Linked DNA regions of Homo sapiens: region 1 is linked to region 2. The links come from fine-mapping of genetic effects on gene expression. Tissue or cell type: skeletal muscle. Region 2 holds a variant in brackets; the other region holds the start of a gene. All regions are shown on one strand. Distances are between the middles of the regions.

Evidence for each region. PIP is the estimated chance that this variant, and not a neighbour inherited with it, causes the effect.
Region 1: it holds the start of MAK16, and the variant in region 2 is fine-mapped to the expression of MAK16 in skeletal muscle (FUSION, PIP 0.95).

What each region holds. Positions count from the first base shown.
Region 1 is chr8:33,484,193-33,486,811 of GRCh38, reverse strand. It overlaps MAK16 (MAK16 homolog), which reads right to left and starts at 1,630. Exons shown (of 10, transcript NM_032509.4): 1 at 1,591-1,630. The coding sequence starts at 1,605. RefSeq lists silencers at 1,623-1,810, 2,021-2,210 and enhancers at 1,701-1,850, 1,838-2,474.
Region 2 is chr8:33,449,373-33,452,135 of GRCh38, reverse strand. The region is part of intron 3 of POFUT3 (protein O-fucosyltransferase 3); the gene reads left to right. Among named protein-coding and RNA genes, the nearest start is that of POFUT3, 22 kb to the left of the region's middle. The variant T/CACACAT (reference allele first, on the strand shown) is at 1,070.

The sequences.
Region 1 (2,619 bases), 35 kb before region 2:
AGTTCTCAATTCCACATCCCTCGTAAGAACAGTCTTCCCTAGAGTTCCCCCACTTCAATAAATAAAATCACCATTTAACTATGTATTTATATCCCAAATCCTTTGATTTCTTCCTTTTCTTCTTCACTTAATCCATCACCAAAGTCTTGTCAATTATACTGACGTAAAAGGTCTCAAATTCATCAATTTCTTTTCATCTCCACCATTAAATTACTACCTTAGGCGAAGCCACTTTCGTTTTTAAAAAAATTTATTTACTTTAGAGATAGGGTCTCTCTGTCACCCAGGCTGGAGTGCAGTGGTGCCATCATAGCTCACTGCAGCCTCGGACTTTTCGGCTCAAGTAGTCCTTCTGCCTCAGCCTTCGAAGTAACTGGGACCTCAGGCGAACACCACCGCGCCCAGCTAATTTTTTATTTTTTGTAGAGATGGAGTCTCACTTTATTGCCTAGGCTGGAATCGAACTCCTGGCCTCAAGCGATCCTCCAGCCCCAGCCTCCCAAAGCGTTGGGATTACAGGCATGAGCCACTGTGTCTGGCTTGAAGCAACCTTTGTCATACCCTAGTCTCCTTGCTTTCATTTTTTCCCTCCAAAAGTCCTTCACACAGCAACTAGACAACTTTTCACAAACATAGATCATTAAAAGGCCTAAAAAACACTTCCTACAAGATTCTGCATGACCTCGCCCTGGCAAGCATATCTAATTTCATTACCTGTCTTACATTGTCACTTTGATGACCCTTATATTCATTCTCTCATATCTTCAACTCTTTGTACTTTACTGTTCCTACTGCCTGGATTGCTTTTTCCTCAGCTCCTCAGTGACTGGCTTATTCTTATCTTTTAGATCTCAACTCAAACATCTTCTGTTCAGAGAAACCTTCCCTGAGTAACCCTATCTGAAGTGTCCTTCATCATCTCTGGTCTTTCTTTCATAGTATGATTATATAGTGTAATTGTTAACTTATTTGTTCACTTGTTTACTGTGTCTCCCCCATCAGTGTTCCAGGAGAGGTGGGACATTTTTTCTGGTTAACCAAATCCTCAATAATTACCACAATGCCTGGCACACTGTAAGCACACTGTTATTTCTCCAACAAAAAACTCAATGAATGAATCTAGGATACTTCCGAAATTATGACTTAGGCAGAAGTAGAGCAAATGTAAAGAAAAGCCTACACAGGAAACGCAGATGGAAGAGTAACGCGCACATGGATGAGAAGGACGCTTAAACTTGGAGTCAGCTTCGCCAAATCCCGGGCCGCCCCCCACCCCAAGTCCGGAGCTGACAGCTGACAGCTGACAGCATGACGCGACGTCCTGCATTGGTAGGCACGAAGGACGGGACACATCGACCCCATGGGCTGAGGTGACGGAGTCCTGTGCTCACAACCCGGCCGGGGCAGCGGGCAGTAAACCCCTGCTAGACACGCGTGAGAACCTATGTTGGAAAATCGGGGTTCCGGAAGCCTCACATCCAGAGCGGCACGAGGCAACAGACCCGCTGCGTACGCGTTTTCTAAGTGTCCGAAAATGGGCAAAATTCCCTGCGCAAACCCCGGGTGTAAGAACAACCGGAGGAGACTCACATCATCCGACTGCATGGTGTCCGCGGCTCAGCGTGCAACTTCCGGTCGGATCGCGGGCGCAGACATGCTCCTTCCGGGAAACCAGTTCCGGAACGCGCAGCCTCACCTATCTCGAGAAACGCTGAGACTCTCGGTGTTGCGAAGCGTCCCCTGGCAGTCTCGTCGCCGCGCGCGCGCCCCCGCGTCTTCACCACGCTGGCGTCTGCGCGCGCCCGTCCGCAATGCTGGGCTTGTTCATGGGCGCAGCCTGGAGCTGGGAACCCTGTTGGGACCCAGTGCGATCCGCGGGAGGCAGGACGCGCGCAGTCTGCCGAATCCTGGAGCGCGGGGACCGCGGGGGTCGGGCGTGCTTCCCTAGCGCCCTGTTTGTGACCGTTCATGAGGATGGGACCCCTCCCTGTCGGGCCTCCCCTCTGCTGGGAGGAGGCTGGGGAAAGCTGCAGGCGGCGCGGCGGGGCTGGGTCCCCGCTCCTCCGAGTCCCCCGGCCCCAGCTCGCAGCCAGGCCCCGGCCCTGCCCCTCAGACCCTGACTTAGCCACTCCCCACGCCCACGTTGGGTGCGGCACCGGGTCCTGACTTTAGAAACTCAGAACTTGAATTCCTCCTGCTTTGAGAAACCACTGACCAAATGGAAAGAGCATTCCAATAATAATAAACACCTGTGTCTTCCTCATTGCCTATTTGAGACAACAAACAAAGTTGATAAGGGAGGGAAAATACCAAGAAGAAAAGTAGAGGTCTAATAACCCACAAAAACAAATCTGGAAGCCTAACAGCTCTTTTCCGCCAGGGGAAAAAGAAAATCTTTACTAGTTTGTATCGTATTATAGAAGAAAGACTGTCGGCCGGGCCGGGCGCGGTGGCTCTCGCCTGTACCTCAGCACTTTGGGCGGCCTAGGCGGGCGAGTTCCAGACCAGCCTGGCCAACATAGTGAAATCCCGTCTCTACTAAAAATACAAAAATTAGTCGGGCGTGGTAGCAGGTGCCTGTAATCCCAGCTACTTGGGAGGCTGAGGCAGGAGAATCGC
Region 2 (2,763 bases):
CCTACACATACACATATATATACACACACACATATATATATACATATACATACACATATATACATGCATATATACACACGTATATACTGATATGGTTTGGCTGTGTCCCCACCCAAAATCTCATCTTGAATTGTAATCCCCATAATCCCGATGTGTCAAGGGTGGGACCAGGTGGAGGTAACTGGATCATCGGGCTGTTCCCCCATGCTGTTCTCATGATAGTGAGTGAGTCTAATGAGATCTGATGGTTTTATAAGCATCTGGCATTTCCCCTGCTGGCACTCACTCCATCCTGCTGCCCTGTGAAGAAAGTGCCTGTTTCTCCGTTGCCTTCTGCCATGATTGTAAATTTCCTGAGGCCTCCCAAGCAATGCAGAACTGTGAGTCAATTAAACCTCTTTCCTTTATAAATTATCCAGTCTTGGGTATTTCTTCATAGCAGTATGAGAATGGACTAATACAATATACATATATGTATATATATGTTCATACACATATACACGTATACACACATATATACACATATACACATGCACACACACATACACATATGTACACACATACATATATACACATACATACACATTTATGCATACATATGCATATGCATATACATATGTACACACATATACATCTACATATATGCATATATGCATATACACACACATATACATACACATATACACATGCACATATATACACACGTATATACACACATGTATACATGTACACATGTATATACATACATACACTTACATACATACACATACTGTAATTTATATATACATATACAGATTGAGCATCCTAAATCTGAAAAATTTGAAATCTGAAATGCCCCCGAATCCAAAACTTTCTGAGCACCAACGTGATGTTCAAAGGAAGTGCTTATTGGAACATTTTGGATTTCAGAATTTCATATTTGGGATTCTCAATGGTATAATTCAGGTGTTCCAAATTAAAAAAAAATCCAAAATCTAAAAAACTCCTGGTCCCAAGCATTTCTGTTAAGAGATACTCAATCTGTATGTATGTACATGTATGTGTACACACACACACACACACACACACA[T/CACACAT]ACACCTCCTTTGTGTGTACTGTACTTTTTTTTTTTGCTCCTCTCTCCCTTCTCTGGAAGCATATAGAATCTTCTCTGTTTCACCAGTTTGGAAATTTAGTAATAACTGCTTTGGTGTGGGTCTGTCTCCTTTTACTGAAGTGGGAACGTAAATGTCTGGTTGCCAGGAAGCCTACAAAACAGTCTTTAACTTGGTGACTTTTTTGGGACTCACAGATCTACAGAGTCATGCACTTAATTTTGTCAGTACACTTAAGAGTTGGTTTTTCTGTCTGGGATGGACTTAATCTCCAACCAAATTCCAAGGAGACTTCTGGTTTGACCTTCTATACCTCAGATCCTGTTACTCTCCAGTGCCCAAAACTATCAGTGACTCTCATGGAGAACCGAATCTATGCTGTTTATTACCTTGGCATTCAAGGCTCTGTGTAATCTGACTCCAACCTACCTTCCAAGCTCAACGCCTCTGATTCTACCAACTAAACCTTACATTCAAAAGTCAAACTGGAATAGTCCCCATTTGAGGCATAAGTCAGAAATATTCCTAACTTAGCACCATTGTTCATATAGTTCTATGTCCTAGATTGTCCTTTTCGTATTTGTCCTGTCAGAATAATCTACTGAATACCTTCCATTTATTTGGCAATATAGATGAATAATATAGTTTCTGATGTCAAAGATTATTATCTTGAGAAAAAGATATGACCCAACTGTAATGCAGGGGCAAATGGTACGTGTACCACGAGAGAAAAGCCAACAAGTCTTTGTGGGGTTTCAAAGACAGGAGAGAGCACCTACTATTGGAAGGATCAAGAAAGGCTTCATAGGCCGGGCACAATGGCTCATGCCTGTAATCCCAGCACTTTGGGAGGCCAAGGCAAGTGGATCACCTGAAGTCAGGAGTTCAAGACCAGCCTGGCCAACATGGTGAAACCCCGTCTCTACTAAAAATACTAAAAATAGCTGGGCGTGGTCATGCATCATGCCTATAATCCCAGCTACTTGGGAGGCTGAGGCAAGAGAATCACTTGAACTTGGGAGGTGGAGGTTGCAGTGAGCCGAGATTGCACCACTGCACTCCAGCCTGGGAGGCAGAGTGAGACCCTGTCTCAAAAAAAAAAAAAAAAAAAAGAAAAGCTTCATAACCCCTCCTTTAAAAAGTAAGAAATTTGAATTTGAAGTGGGCCTTGAAGGATATTGGGGTTGGATAACGTTGAGATTGGAGGATATTTCAGTATGAAGAACAGCATGAATGGAGGCATGGAGGAAAACAATTACAAGTAATATCTGAGGTACATCAAGCAGAGTGGTTGGCTATAGCTTAGTTCTGGGTAAGGGAAAGATAAAGATTGAAGGACATATTGGGACCAGAGCTTGGAGAACCTTCAATGTTGGCTTAAGATTTTTCCATCACATCATAGGATGGTGTTGAGGAGTCAGTCCCTGGAGTTAAAACCACCTTTTAAAAGTCAACTCAGGCCAGACGCGGCGGCTCACGCCTGTAATCCCAGCACTTTGCAAGGCTGGGGTGGGCAGATCACCTGAGGTCAGGAGTTTGAGACCAGCCTGGTTAACATGGTGAAACCCTGCTTCTACTAAAGATACAAAAATTAGCCAGGTATGGTCATGGGTGCCTGTAATCCCAGCTACTCAGTAGGCTGAGGCACAAGAATCGCTTAAACCTGGGAGGAGAA